2 separate regions of the Homo sapiens genome follow, and region 1 is linked to region 2. The links come from fine-mapping of genetic effects on gene expression. Tissue or cell type: cerebellar hemisphere. Region 2 holds a variant in brackets; the other region holds the start of a gene. All regions are shown on one strand. Distances are from middle to middle.

Region 1 (8,107 bases), 100 kb after region 2:
CCATGTTGGCCAGGCTGGTCTTGAACTCCTGACCTCAAGTCATCCACCCAACTCGGCCTCCCAAAGTGCTGGGATTACAGGTGTGAGCCACCATGCCTGGCCGAGTATTCTCGAGTGTTCTTTTTTTTTTTTTTGAGACAGAGTCTCACCCTGTCACCCAGGCTGGAGTGCAGTGGCACAGTCTCGGCTCACTGCATGCTCCGCCTCCCGGGTTCACACCATTCTCCTGCCTCAGCCTCCCAAGTAGCTGAGACTACAGGCACCCGCCACCACACCCAGCTAATTTTTTGTATTTTTAGTAGAGACAGGGTTTCACCATATTAGCCAGGATGTCTCAATCTCCTGACCTTGTGATCCACCCGCCTCGGCCTCTCAAAGTGCTGGGATTACAGGCGTGAGCCACCGCGCCTGGCCCCTGGCCGAGTATTCTTAAATAAAACAAATACTACGAGTCTGTAGTAGAGGCACAGCACCCTTTAGTTTCTCCTGCCTAATCTCTCTTTACTTGCTATCTCTCAGGAACACAGCATTCTCTAACTGTCCTTTTGAACAATGGACCTTGTTCAATGAATTTGGGATGGACAGAGGTGTAACTTTCTTATAAAGCCAAAGAAGAGAAACAATGAAAACAGAGTTGAAAAGGAGAACTTAAAAGAATCCAGACAAGCAGATGACTTTTAGGCAAGAGTCCCTGCAGAAGCTGAGAATCTGGAAATGGACTCTTTTAATGTTATCTGTGCCCCCGCATCCCCAGTTCCAGGACCACTGGCTAGTTTGACACACCCTCACTGGGCACACTCAGAGCTAGATATAATTCCTGGAAACCCTTCTACACCTCCATCTCTAGCTCTCTGGCATAAGAAAGCACAAGGTATTGCAAGTAGTATCCTTGAACTTATTCCAGATTATACAAAAGGAAACTATTTATAAATTTCCAAACTTTTATTAGGAGGAACAGATTCACTGTGACCCAGTATACAGCTGAGGGCAAAGTACCAGTCATCAGGAACAGGCCAACTCAAGAGATCCTTCATGAACAAACCATGCTGAAGTCTTAAAAAGGAAGACTAATTTTCATAGATAGGTGGGGACCCATCAGGCCTGAAAACCTTGGCGTCTTCATATCCTAGGCCCCTACACATCAGCCTCACTTCTGAAATGCAAATCAGGTAGTGTCATTCTCATTGCTAATTTTTTTTTTTTTGAGACAGTGTCTCACTCTGTTGCCCAGGCTGGAGTGCAGCGGCACAATCTTGACTCACTACAACCTCTGCCTCCTGGGTTCAAGCGATTCTCCTCCCTCAACCTCCAGAGTGGCTGGGACTACAGGTGCACGCCACCATGCCCAGCTAATTTTTTTTTTTTAGTAGAGGTGGGGTTTCACCATATTGGTCAGGCTGGTCTCGAACTCCTGACCTTGTGATCCGCCCGCCTCGGCCTCCCAAAGTGCTGGGATTAGAGGCGTGAGCCACCGCGCCCAGCCAAAATCTTTTCAATGGGTATCCAATGTCTTTGGTTTAAAGCCTAGATTCCTTAACGAGGCACAGAAAGACCTCATGACCTGAACCCTGCCTATTTATCCACCTTCATTTCTTTCCATTTCCCCAAATATACCCTATGCCCCAGCCACACTGAGCCCCTAGCAGTTCCAGCTCCCACTCTCCATGAGGTCTTTTCATGAGCTCCTCCCTCTGCTAGAACATCCTCCCACACTCCCCATTTGTTGTCCCAGGGAAGTATTAACACCCCCTTTAAGACTCTGTTCCTTACTATCACATTTGGGATTAAGTTAAAGAAAAGAAAAGAAAATTTTTTAATTAAAGAAAAACAAAACTAAAAGACTCTGTCCTTTACAACTCCTCTGCAAAGCCTTACTGAGCATCTACCACATGCTTAGCATTGTGTTAGGCACCGAGGATGCATGGTAGAATTAAATGCCCTTCTTAGTTCCATCAGCAACCTCTGTTTGCATCTAGAGCATCAATGTCTTCTTTGTATTATAACTGTCTCCTCTACAAGGCTGTGAGCATTCTGAGGACAGGGCTTCCGCATTATTCATCTTTGACTCCCTATTACCTAGTCCATGGAATGCATCAGTAAATATTTGTCAAATTCATTTACTCACAAAGAATTCATTGAAAATTTTTGTATCAGGAATGAATGAGGTGCTGAACGAACAGGATTATAAAACTGAATGAACAGGATCATGCTTATGATCCCTGCCCTCTTGAAACTTTGTAGTCTCAGGGGATAAACAGAGCACTTGATTTAATGAATGATGTAGGAATGAGTGAATGAGTTAACGAATCAGGGAAGGAGTCTGGATGCAGCAGCCCAGAGCAGATCTACAGGAAGTGAAAGGCCAGTGTCTAGAGAGGTAGTTGGGGAATGCTGATGCCCTTTTGGTCTTTCTTTTTTCTTTTCCTTGAGAGACAGTCTTGCTCTGTCACCCAGGCTGGAGTGCAGCGGCCTGATCTCAGCTCACGGCAGCCTTGGCGTCTCAGGCTCAAATGATCCTCCCATCTCAGCCTACAAAGTAGCTGAGATGGGCCAGGCATGGTGGCTCATGCCTGTAATCCCCACACTTTGGGAGGCCAAGGCAGGTGGATCACTCGAGTCCAGGAGTTCAAGACCATCCTGGGCAACATGATGAAACCTTGTCTCTACCAAAAATACAACAACAACAACAACAAAAGTTAGCTGGGCATGATGGTGTGCACCTATAGTCCCAGCTATTCAGGAGGCTGAGGTGAGAGAATCAACTGAGATGGGGATGCCGCCACTGCACTCCAGCCTGGGCCACAGAGTGAGGCTCCACCTCAAAAAAAAAACCAAGTAGCTGAGACTACAGGTGCACACCACCACACCAGGCTAATTTTGTTTTATTTTTTGTAGAGAAGAGGTCTCACTGTGTTGCCCAGGCCAGTCTCAAAGTCCTGGACTCAAGCAATTCTCCCACCTTGGCCTCCTAAAGTGCTGGGATTACTACGGCTGGCGTGAGCCACCGTGCCAGGACTTCTTTTTTTTTTGAGACAGGGTCTCGCTTGTTGCCCAGGCTGGCTTTGAACTCCTGGCTTCAAGCAATCCTCCTACCTCAGCCTCCCAAAATGTTGGGACTACAGGCATGAGTCACCGCCCCCAGCCTGGTCTTTCTAATACAGAGAAACTTGAAAGACAGCAAGCACCAGAGCAAAAAGCATGGAGTTTAGAGTCTGACCTAGACTTGAATTCTGGATCCATTACTTATTAGCCATGTGACCTTAGGCAAATCCCTTAACCTGTTTGTATCTTCATTTCCCCATCTATAAAATAGGGTTAATAATAATATCATAAGAGGATTATGATTAAATAAGAGAATGCATTTAAAAGCCCTTAGCCTGCATCCATAGTTTAGGAATTGGTGGTTCCCATCACTTGCTCAGTGTTGAGTGTGCAAATTCAGAAACACAGCATGTCTGGACTCAGCCCTGGTCCAGTATTTTTACCACAAACCAGCACCTGACACCTTCCCTAATCCCATGCCTATGTGGCTCTCCCTTCTTTTTTATTTTATTTTTTAAAGACAAGGCCTCACTTTATTGCCCAGGCTGGTCTCGAACTCCTGGACTCAAGGAATCCTCCCGCCTCGGCCTCCCAAATCACTGGGAGCGAGCCATGGAACCCAACCTTCCCTCTCCCTTCACCACTCCACCCGTCACTGGCCAGTTCTGTTTACACGCTGCCTACGTGCTTTCAAGGCCAGGGGTTGTCTAGCATATCTTTACAAGCCTAAGGTGAGGGAGTTGCTGGTTAGGGAGAGGCATGGCAAGAAGGCAGTCAAAGAGGAAGGGAAAAGCACAGGTGTTTAGGAAGGCTCCACAATGAGCCTGGCACCCAGCTTGGTATTCAACATGCATTGTTCCCTGTCATCTTCATAAAAATATCATTTTGAGCTGGCCGCCGTGCCTCAGTTAACTCAGGAAGCTGAGGCAAGAAGACTGCTTGAGCACAGGAGTTTGAAGTTGTAGTAAGCTATGATCAGCCACTGCACTGCAGCCTGGGCAAGGTAGCAAGACCCTGTCTCTTTAAAAAAAAATTATAGCTGAGGAAACTGAGGCTCAGGAGGTAAACAGGAGATATGGGATAAAAAGCCAAGTGTCTTTGTGACTCCAAAATAATTTTCTGCTCTGCCATGCTGCCCACCAGCTTGTAGATGACCATCAAATGTTTGAGCAATAAGTTTCAGTTTTCTTATTCCCAAGAGGAGCAGAAATTGCGCAGCCCTCCCTCCAGAGAATCCAGGTATATGCTCAAACAGTGATGAATAAACAAATGAACACTAATGAATAAATGAAAGATTGAGTGAAATCTCTCTGATACCCACACCAGGAAGAAGGAAACAAATAACTCTGGAGGAGCCGCCTTGCGGGTAGAAGTGGAGACTGTCTCCCTGGCTGTGGTCTCCAGTGTCCAGGTCAGCAAAGGGCTAGGAACTGGCTTAGTTGGAGTTAGAAAAACTTAGGAGGGTAGGGGGTGCTGGGGAGAACGTGATGGCTGGAGGGAAAGCCAGTGTGAAGGGCAGGGAAGAGGAATGGAATTACTCTGTCCTCATCCTCAGCCCTTCCCTGCCATTTCCCTCGGGAAGATAGCCCCTGACTCCTGGCCCAACATGCTGCCAACTTTTAAAATGAAAGTAGCAGGATCCAAAGCGGCCACACCAGGAGGTCACTCCAGAAGGGGGGTTACCAGCGAAGCACCCCACATGTCCCTCCTCCTTCCTGCACAGCACCCCTCGGCCCTGCACTTCCTGCTGCCGCCCCCTTGTCCTGACATAGGACTCCCTCCACTCCCTCCCAGCTCCCACATCTTACCCTGAAAGACCAAGGTAGGGGCGTCCCAGCCCACGCCCTCCGGTCCTTGCGTTCCAGGCTTCCTGGGCCAAGGGGTTGCCCGCTGCCCTGAAGATCCCGCTCTGCCAGGCGCTCCTCCGTCCCTCCCCAAACAAAAATCCTCCAGACAGGTTCCAAAGCTGCCCAGCCCAGGAGGAGGGAGGCTGAGGAAATCCCCTCCCAGCTGGGCTGGGCCGGCCTGCTTGGCAGTCTTGCTCCTGGGCTGGCCCTGGATGAATGAGTCCTCCTCTTCGCCTGCTTGGGTCTTAGCCAGGGAGCCGGTGGCAGCCTCTGCTCTTTCTCCAGGACACTGAGCTCCATTCCTCCTCCAAGTCCTGCCCTCCTGCTTCATGCCTGGGTCCCCTGCTCTCCACTCTCAGCTCTCTGACGCCTCAACCGGGTGGTCTCTATCACTCTGCATTTGGTTATGCTCCAGTCTGAAGCCAGGCCTGTACTGGGCACCAGGGTGGGTGACTTGACGATCCTCAGCAGAGATTTAGTCCACAGAAGAATTGGTGACACCATGGCCCCTGGTGAAATAGCTTTGCCAGCTCTGATTATTCATTCAAAGCATTTTGAGAATAACTGGCCTTGTGTGAGGCCCTGAGGATGAAGAGGTAGATTAACGGGGTCCCTGACCTCCTACTCTACTAGGAAGACAAAGAATGAAGCTCTAAGTAGACGCTGCTCAAGATTCAGGCAGAAGGTGGCCAGGCATGGTGTCTCACGCCTGTAATCCCAGCACTTTGGGAGGTTGAGGTGGGTGGATCACCTGAAGTCGGGAGTTCGAGACCAGCCTGATCAACATGGAGAAACCTCATCTCTACTAAAAATACAAAATTAGCTGGGCATGGTGGTGCATGCCTGTAATCCCAGCCACTCGGGAGGCTGAGGCAGGAGAATCGCTTGAACCCGGGAGGCGGAGGTTGCAGTGAGCCAAGATCACGCCATTGCACTCCAGCCTGGGCAACAACAGCGAAACTCGGTCTCAAAAAAAAAAAAAAAAAAAAATTCAGGCAGAAGGGACCAGAGAGGAATCCCCCTGTGTGGAAGTGTTCTGGAAAAGCTCCTAGATGACATGACATACAAGATGGGTTTTGAAAGGTGAACAGGGGTTTTCCAGAATTGTAAGCGGGGAGCACACAGAAGGGGAGCACAGGCTGACAGAAAAGGCCATGGGAAGGGACGGAATTCAGCAGGAACTACTCAAAGTTCAGAATTGTGAGCAGGGAGTGTCAGATCATGAAGGGCCTTGTGTGCCTTGGTAAACAGTTTGGACTGTGTCCTATAGGTTCTGGGGAGTCATAGAAAGATTGTTTGTTTGTTTGTTCGTTTGTTTGTTGCAATACAGGGTCTCTCTGGGAGGCAGAGGTTGCAGTGAGCCGAGATTGCGCCACTGCACTCTAGCCTGGGCAACAGAGTGAGACTCCATCTCAAAAAAAAAGAAAAAAGAAAAAATAGGATCTCTCTCAGTTACCCAGGCTAGAGTGCAGTGGTGCACTCATAGCTTGAAGCAGCCTTGAACTCCTGGACTCAAGTGATCCTCCCACTTCAGCTGCCTGTGTAGCTGGGACTACAGGCACCCACCACCATGGTCAGCCAGTTTTTAAATTTTTTGTAGAGATGGAATTTCACTCTGTTGCCCAGGGTGATCACGAACTCCTGGCCTCAAGAGATCCTCCCGCCTTGACTTCCCAGAGCGCTGGGATTACAGGTGGTACACCACACCCTGCTAGCTCACAGATAGGCCTTAAACAAGGGACACAAACTATCAGACTGCATTTAAAATAGATCACTGGAGCCAGGTGTGGTGGCTCACACCTGTAATCCCAGCAATTTGGGAGGTCAAGGCTGGAGGATTGCTTAGGCCCAGGAGTTCGAGACCAGCCTGAGCAACATAGTGGCACCTGTCTCTACAAAACAAATTTTTTTTAATTATCCGGGCAATGGTAGTGTGCACATGTAGTCCCAGCTATACTCCAGAGGCCGAAGTGAGAGGACAGCTTGAGCCCAAGAGGTTGAGGCTGCAATGAGCTATGATCACACCACAGCACTCTAGCCTGGATGACAGAGTGAGACCCTGTCTTAAAAAAAAAAAAATTCACTGAGACCTGCAGTGTAAAGAAGGGTTTGAAGGAGGCAAGACTAGAGGCAAGAAAACCAGTCAGGGTTGCATGAGTCAGGGCAAGTGATAATGTAGGCCTTATCAAGGCATTGGCTAGGGAGTGGGGGTGGGAGTGAGAGAAAGAGATTCAAGAGATGCTAAGGGAGTACCATTGATGGGACTTAAAGAGTAAGGGAGGAATCTAGGATGACTCGAAGATTTCCAGCTGGAATAACTAACTAGGTTGATAGTGGTGACCACAAACAAGATTGAGAAATCAGGAAGAATGGCCAGGCGCGGTGGCTCACGCCTGTAATCCCAATACTTTGGGAGGCCGAGATGGGTGGATCACTTGAGGTCAGGAGTTTGAGACAAGCCTGGCCAACATGGTGAAACCCTGTCTCTACTAAAAATACAAAAATTAGCTGGGCATGGTGGCGAATGCTTGTAATCCCAGCTACTCAGGAGGCTGAGACAGGAGAATCACTTGAACCCAGGAGGCGGAGGTTGCAGTGAGCAGAGATCACATCACTGCAGACTAGCGTGGATGACAGAGCGAGACTCTGTCTCAAAAGAAAAAGAGTTGGGTGAGGTGGCTCACGTCTGTAATCCCAGCACTTTGGGAGGCCAAGGCGGGAGGATCACAATGTCAGGAGATCAAGACCATCCTGGCTAACACGGTGAAACCCCGTCTTTACTAAAAATACAAAAATTTAGCCAGGCATGTTGGCACATGCCTGTAGTCCCAACTACTCGGGGGGCTGAGGCACTAGAATTGCTTGAACCTGGAAGGCGGAGGTTGCATTGAGCTGAGATGGCACCACTACATTACAGCCTGGGCATCAGAGCAAGACTCCGTCTCAAAAAAAAAAAAAAAATTTCAGGATCAGGAAGAAAAGCAATTTGGGGGGAAATGAATTCTGTTCTGGACCTGTTGAGTCAGAGGCACCTGCGGAGATGTTCAAGGAGTAGTTGCTCCAGGGATAGACAGGAGTTATGTATCAGTCAGGGTACCAGCAGGAAGGAGAAGGCATCTTCAGCTAGATTTGAAGATCTGGGAAGGGTAAAGGAAGTCATTAAGAGATGTTGAATATCCAGGGATGAATGACAGTGGGAAGCCTTAGGCCTGAAGGGA
Region 2 (8,097 bases):
TATGTTCCTGCAGGTTCTCTGTGCCTCAGTTTTCTCATCTGTAAAATGGACCACAACAATAGCTCCAACCTCATTACACTGGATGGATTAGAGGAGAAGGCACAAGTAAGGCTCTTAGCACAACGGCTGGCAAGCTGTAAGCTCTCAAATATTAAGATACGCATGCTACTGCTAATCATAATTTTAATTAAACTAGTACAATTATTAGTATAGGCTAGCCCAAATTTTTTAAAAGAAGAAAAGGATCTAAGAGATAAGCATTGAGGCTCCTGTGAGAATTGAGATAAACTGTGGTAAGGGATAACATGAAAATAATACCAGCTAAACAGCACTTTTTTGACCATTATTTTGGATCTGAAAGAAATCAAGAATAAATGAAGGACTTGATACATTGGAAGAGGAGAGTCAAGGACCTACAGAGGCAGGTCGAGATCTCCACTGTGTGGCCCAGATCTCCATTTGGAAGGCCTCTCAAGGTCACTAACATTCCTAGGCAAAATCTAGGAGAATCTGTCTCCTTTTCCAGATTCCAGGCACAGAAACCTGAAGGATAAGAACAAATTAGAGACCTTAATTTCATTTCAACAAATAAGAGACATTTCAGTGGTGAGCATTCCTCCCTTTCTACCTGGTTTCCTTCTCACTGCATGAATCATTCTAACTTCTGTTCCAGCTGTCTTCCTTCCATTGACTGACCAAGGCCCTCCCTAAGGCCCAGTTCTGCCTCCCACCCCACCCTGCTCCCACTCAGTATGCCAATTCGATCTCTAGCTCAGCCCTCTTCCCCTTCATCCAGCCTCAACACTCTAGTAGTCCAGAGAACATCTCCATGGAGATCCTGTGGCCCCTGACCCTAATGAGTTTCTTTTTGCCAGACAGCCTGCCTGCCTTTCTCAATTGTCCCGTTCCCATCAATAGACTGCCACAGGGGTCATGTGAGGAACTAGTCCAAGGAGCCTCCGTGCTAGACATCTAGCCAGGAAGAACTACAGTGCAGTAGAAGAAAAGAATCCTCCAAGCATGGAAATGGCCAATAGCTCCCTTTCCAAAGTCAAGACAGATATTCGAGAAATGTTTGGTAGGGTTATAAGCGTTATTTCTCAGTTCATCTTCCAAAGCTGTAGAGGCAGTACATTTTCTGGGAAAAAGCCTCAGTACAGAACATGCCAGCACTGCTTTTCAGAGAAAGATAGGCCCTGTCTGGAGCCTCATTACCTGGAACACAAAGTTTGCATGCCAATTTGCATGGAGATAAGAGAGAGGCCATGGAAAGAAAGGAAGGAATATTCACAATTTGCTAAAATGTGTGTGCCAGCACCTCTTTTTTAAAGAAAAGCAAAAAGAATATTGTAGAAAATTAATATTCCATTTCTCTAAGTCAAGTTCCTGTCTGTTCGGCAGGTTACTTTGTAATAAACCAAATTAATTGTCTCCCACATGCCTTCTAATATTTTATCAGTCCAGGCTGGGTGTGGTGGCTCACGCCTGTAATCCCAGCACTCTGGGAGGCCGAGGCGAGCAGATCACTTGAAGTTAAGAGTTCGAGACCAGCCTGGCCAACATGGTGAAACCCCATCTCTACTAAAAGCACAAAACATTAGCCAGGCCTGGTGGTGCACGCCTGTAATCCCAGCTACTCAGAAGGCTGAGGCAGGAGAACTACTTGAATCCAGGAGGTGGAGGTTGCAGTGAGCCGAGATCACGCCACTGCACTCCAGCCTGGGCAACAGAGTGAGACTCCATCTCAAAACAAAACACACAATAACAAATATATATATTTGATCAGTTCAAAAGATGCATTTTAAAGTGTAAGAATCTTAAAGTGGAAGTTGCAGCACTTTGCGGGCAACACGTTGGTAGTAACTGGCATTTTCAAGTGTGGGGAGGAACAACTAGTTTCCTGCCATTCAGTTCCTCATTATAACAGTCCTTTGCAATTTTCTCAATTATATTTTAAACAGGTCTGAAGATGCACTGGTGTATCTAGTTCTTTTTACACTAAAATTTGTCTTTGCAGAGCAAAGTCACAGCTGGGGATTGTGAAGCAATTACATGGCTCTAGAAGAAAGAAAAACAAGCTGGGAGCAATGACTCACACCTGTAATCCCAGCACTTTGGGAAGCTGAGGCAGTGGAGGATTGCCTGATCCCAGGAGTCTGAGACCAGCCTGGGCAACATGGAGAGACCCTCATCTCTACATTAAAAAGAAAATTAGCCAGGCATGGTGGTGCATGCCTGTAGTCCCAGCTATTCGGGAGGCTGAGGCAGGAGGATCGCTTGAGCCTGGGAGGTTGAGGTCGCAGGGAGCTATGATCGTGCCACTGCACTCCAGCCTGTATGACAGAGCAAGACCTTGTCTCAAAAAAAAAAAAAAAAGGAAAAATAAGTACCCATGGAAGGATAAGGTTCTGCAGCCTTTTCCTTTGCCATATTTTATCTCTCAAGCATAAGTGTGAAATAATTTCAACAAACCTCATTTGACACAAAGAAAAGTGGTGAAAACAGATATTTTAATTCAAATATGTGGCATTTCTTTCCATGGAGTCTTGAAGACCACACACATTTACAACAGATGGATTAGAAGAGGAAGCAAGAAGTTCTGCCTGCTATAGGAATGTGGCTACAGCTGTCTTAAGGCCCTTTTGTAACTAGTAATACATAAAGCAAATGATGTTAATGACCTTCGTTTTACCCAACCCCTCACTAAAAAGTGGAAATCATCAACTGCTCCACTTCCAATAAGATGTCTCAAATCAGTCCTGAATGTTATCCTAGGGAAAATACTTCAGGAATTTTTTGGATCTCTAAGTTAGGTGTGCACTTAGGTGATACGGGCAATACAAACTTTCAGGACAGAGCACACATGCAGAAGCCAGAAAGCAAGAAGCTGTGTTTAGATAATACAACACTGCCACCTAGAGGCCATACACTAAGGACTTGGACACCATCACCAAACAGGCTGAAAAGGTAGACAAGCTGCCTGTGCTTCGCAGCACATCTGGCTTAAATGAGTAAAGATACTGAGGAAATGTTACAGAGTAGTTAAATATGCTTCCTGCTCACTACCTACAAAGACAGGTGTTGAACTAGCCATCCAAGAAACCAGTTTGGTGATGGTTGTATTAAGATACTTGGAAAACAGTGTAAAAATCATACTTCCAATCTCATGAAAACATTTCAAAACTGTGAATTTATTACACACTGATTGAATGAATATGCATTTCTTTAATGTGTCAAATAAACCTAGGAACATGGGATATAAACCAAGGTAAACAGGCTTCCTTATTGCAGGTCTTCTCAGAACCTTTCATATTTGACTGTATGTAGAAAATCTCCAAAGAGAGACTACAGATTGCAAGTTTCCAAAACTTAACTATAGAATCCTTTTGTTGTTGTTGTTGTTTTCTTTCTTTCAAAACACACCAGTGAGCAAACTCGCCCTCCCTACTAGGAAAGGAAGGTCGAGTGGTAGTTTGCGGCTGCAGGTTATGGAATCAAACTGCATGGGTTCCCATTCTAACTCTACCACTTTACAATTGAGCCGTTCTGTATCTATTTCCCCTTCTGTAACATAGGAATATAACACCTACTTCCCAAGGAGTTGTGAAGATTACAAGGTAATACACGTAAACCACCTAAAATAATTAGTGGTGGTTGGCTTTCCCTTCAAGTCCTTCTTGGATGTTATTTGTATCCAAAGTATCCTAATGTACCGTTCCGGGAAGTTACTATTAACAAATAACACTCACCTGGCACGGTGGCTCATGCCTGTAATCCCAGCACTTTGGGAGGCCGAGGCAGGTGGATCACCTGAGGTCGGGAGTTCAAGACCAGCC[T/C]GGCCAAAATGGAGAAACCCCATCTCTACCGAAAAAATACAAAATTAGCCGGGTGTGGTGGCGCATGCCTGTAATCCCAGCTACTCAGGAGCCTGAGGCAGGAGAATCGCTTGAATCCGGGAGGTGGATGTTGCGGTGAGCCAAGATTGCGCCATTGCACTCCAGCCGCCTGGGTGACAAGAGCGAAATTTTGTCTCAAAAAAAAAAAAAAAAAAAAAACCTCTCCAGTTATGCCCAGCTGCTGTCCACATTCCCCTTACAGACTATGTTCCTTTGGGACCCCCAAGAGGGACAGGGGGAGCATTTAAACTAACTAGCTTACTTACTAGCTTAGATGGAAAACAGTGGTACTAATAATCTCTTTTGAATAACTGGAAGGGCTTTCAGCATTTGCAAAACAAAGGATAGAGATCCTTACCAAAGTCCAAAATTCACACACAGTGCTTTCTCCAACAATGCTTGATTTTATCTTTTAAATCATTTCTCCACACAGAACTCAAGATGTAGAAGGTAAATTAACTCCCAAATACCTCCAGCATTCTATATTGAGATATTATATACATGCATATATGTATGTGTGTGTATATATGAATGTGAATGGGAGAGGTGGTGGTATGTGAAATAGCTAAAATACCTTGCTGCTTAAGACTTTAAGGTATTTTTTAACCATCTGTCCTAGTTCTCTTTGAAGTAGACTGGTAGAGATCAACATCCACTGGGATGCAAAACATTTCAAGCAAAACCCTGATCATTTTATTCTCCGTTTTCTTCATCCTGAGTTGTCTCCTTTCACATTTACTTTCTATTTCACAATTAAAGACTTCTCCTTAATCACTGACTGAATTTATAATTTTCAGTAACAGGAAAACATAACATTTATTGGGCATCTATGTACCACATGCATCTTGAAATATTCTCTCCATTTAACCAATGGGAGCCTAAGGCCGGAGGCTGCAAGTAAAGGCATGCCACGCTGGGCTGCCAGGCCTGGAGGACAAGCCCTGTTTTGCCACTAATTAGATCTATGATGAGGCTGGCCACCCTTAGTGTACCCTCAACAGTGCCAGTTCACACCTGCTGCTCAGGCATCCTTACTAATGGCATCCCTTCCACTCTCAACAGTATCTGGAATTTAAGTTATACAGTCTTCCTAGCTACAGCCTCAACAAGGCTCCTTATCCCTCTGCACCTGTTTCCAAAATCTGAAAAAGAAGACAGGATTAGATAGTTTCACAAGAGTTTTTTCAAGCTGTTTCTGTGATTTCCATTTCAGAATTAAAACAGCTTCTAAAGTAGTCCAATTACAAAATTTAAAGATCTTTCAATCTGTCTTCCTCCCACTGATAAACTAATGTCTATTTTTCTCTGATTAGTTTAGACCCAACCTGTTTGTATAGACAAACAATTATTTAACTGACATTTAAGAGTGAGTCAATGAGTATGTCAGCAACTGGAGGAAACAGAAAACAAGCTGGAATCGGTACAATTGTTTAAGTGTGTTTTACTTCACTCATCTCCTCACTCCTTCTTAGGTTGGATTAACACATTAATGATGCCAGGACCAGGATACTCCCCACCATGTGTGAGATTTGTGTATATGAAACACCCAACCAAAAACATTTTCACCTGAGCTTAGATTTACTACCCTAGAGCAGAAATGGGCCAGGGGAGATACCTAGACACAAGGCCATGAAATTCCCACATCGGGATAGAACCTGAAGCTCTGACACATAAGAAACATTAACCACAGGAAGCAGCAAAAGAAAAAGAAATGGATGAGAAAACGGCAAAGTGGGACAACCCAACGTTCCGCCACCACCCTCCATACCTCAGGCAAGGAGAAACGCTGATTTTGGAGTAAATACATTTATTGATACCCATTTCATATATAGTTCAATGAAATAATCTATAAATATAAAAAGCATTTTTCTTTTGGATATCACCATGGTCCATGTAAATACTCAAGTCAGAATCACCTGCAGGAAGCACTCCAAGTCACACTGTTAGCTTTACAGACCTGAATATACATATTGCATTAAACAGTGGCACTTATGTACTCAAGTGGTCCAGTGGCTTTGGAATATATGTCTACTGGGCATGTGGAATAGAAATAATGTGTTAGGTTTAAATCAATGGAAAGGGTATCAACCATCAACAAAAGCAACAATTATGAATTCATATCCTAGGCAAAGAAAGTACCACAGTTGACACTTGGTGTCAGAATACTAGAGACAAAGTATGTAAAACAATGCCTGTTGCAGCACCACGTGCTCACTCCAACTCCCAGTGGACAGTCCCCCAATGCCTTAGGGTCACTCGTGGTCAACCAAATGCAATCAAGAAGCTCGATAGCTTAGAATAAAAGGTCTGTAGAGGCTGATATCAAGATTAAAGTAAGCTAAACATTTCAGTGACACAATGAGTTTCTCCCCTAGAAGGGGACTGTGGGAAAACTTTTAATTCCCTTTGTTACACTGAGCATGATCATTTATCTAATGCAGAAGAAAGAACCCAGACATCTGGTACTCAGAACATAGGTGCAAAAATTTTCTTCCATTTCAAAGTTTTTTCAATACTTCCGAGGGAACTAATGCAACCACCGTTGAGCCTTGCTCTCCACCTGATGCAGCATAAAATTTTCTCTCATTTCTTCAATATAGGAATGTCTTGCTGCAGACTATGTGTCTTCCGAGTTAGCAAGCAAATGCATTTAAAAGGTCTTAGTTGTGCAATGTCCAAAACTGAAATCTGAGAGGCAGTGTTAGAACTTAAGCAAGGCAGAATTTTTAGAGTCTACTCAAATGAAAGCCTAAGTGAAGCATATAAAAATTCAGTCTTTTCTATTATTTTCAACTGGAATTGATGGCAACATTCCCTGGTAAGGATGGGTAACTGGTGTTATCTCCAGGTCCAAAATATCCCAACTACTTAAAGGGGACCCAAAAGAGGAGAAACACACACTTGAGTTCTGTGGTCTCCAGAATTTTTTTTTTTTTTTTTTGCCATTTTCAAAAAAGATATAGTAGCTTCAGTTGTACACCACCAGTTGAAGGGGTTTTCATCCAAATGAGAAACTCTACCCCTTGTCTCTAGTGGAACAGGCACCAGATTCCCACAAGCAGCAGCTCCCATGTCCTGTAGCACGTGGCATCCGACCCTGGAGTGAAGAGTAAGCTGGCACAGAGCCCCGACGCTGGGATTCAGACTAGATGGCGTTTCGTGGCGTGCCATTGTGTGTCAGCGCTTTCAGACTGGAGGCACTAGTCTGGTGACCACAGCTCCTGTGAGAAGTCACACCCACCTCAAAAACCTCATGAATAGCTTTTCGGAAACAGTGGAAGTTGTAGTCTATTAAACCTGCAGGAAGGAAAAAGAAAAGAATGCCTCCTGAATTGTCAATTGTGAAATTTTATATTTGGGTTTGCAGCCAAAAATAACTCGGATAAACACTGGTTGGAAATTCTTAAGCCTCCAAACTAGATAGCAACTTCTTCAATCGTAAGAACAGCTGGTCATCGGTCAGGTGCAGTGGCTCACGCCTGTAACCCCAGCACTTTGGGAGGCCGAGGCGGGCAGATCACAAGGTCAGGAGATCAAGACCATCCTGGCTAACACGGTGAAACCCCGTCTCTACTAAAAATACAAAAAAAATTAGCCGGGCATGGTGGCGGGCACCTGTAGTACCAGCTACTCAGGAGGCTGAGGCAAGAGAATGGCGTGAACCTGGGAGGCAAAGCTTGCAGTGAGCCAAGATTGCACCATTGCATTCCAGCCTGGGTGACAGAGCGAGACTCCAACTCAAAAAAAAAAAAAAAAAAAGAACAGCTGGTCATCATATATATCCACCATCATAACGTTCTGCTAGAAAACAAATGCGATTGCAATTAGACCATCACCTTGGCCAAATTAATACCTCTGGCATCCAAGTTTCAAATCACTCAATTCACATTCAAGAAAAGTAAAATATTCAAATACACTGTGTGGCCTGCTTGAACATAGTGTGATCTTTCAATAGTTTATATTTGATTTGATGAAAGTCAGTAAATACTTATTACACAGCACGATAGAGGGTACAATATGTCAAAGGAAACAGCAGATATGGTCCATGACTTCCAGACAGGATATGCTAGCTGAGGCATAAAGCCAAAATACAAGAAACAAACCAAAACAATCTGGTGTCAAATTGACTACAACTGTGAAGGAAATCCAAAGAAAAAGCCAAGTGCAGGGCAAAGTAATCAACTGAAAACTTCAGGGACAA

Alleles and levels. Positions count from the first base shown, and alleles are read on the strand shown. Sizes are in standard deviations (SD) of each study's normalised expression.
With allele C in place of T in region 2, the expression in cerebellar hemisphere of the gene that starts at base 4,999 in region 1 is lower (small effect, 0.27 SD a copy in GTEx).

Evidence for each region. PIP is the estimated chance that this variant, and not a neighbour inherited with it, causes the effect.
Region 1: RHBDL2 starts here. The variant in region 2 is fine-mapped to the expression of RHBDL2 in cerebellar hemisphere (GTEx, PIP 0.93).

What each region holds. Positions count from the first base shown.
Region 1 is chr1:38,936,832-38,944,938 of GRCh38, forward strand. RHBDL2 (rhomboid like 2) reads right to left here and starts at 4,999. Exons shown (of 8, transcript NM_017821.5): 1 at 4,851-4,999.
Region 2 is chr1:38,832,512-38,840,608 of GRCh38, forward strand. RRAGC (Ras related GTP binding C) reads right to left here. Exons shown (of 7, transcript NM_022157.4): 7 at 5,687-7,193. The coding sequence ends at 7,042. Among named protein-coding and RNA genes, the nearest start is that of RRAGC, 23 kb to the right of the region's middle. The variant T/C (reference allele first, on the strand shown) is at 3,837.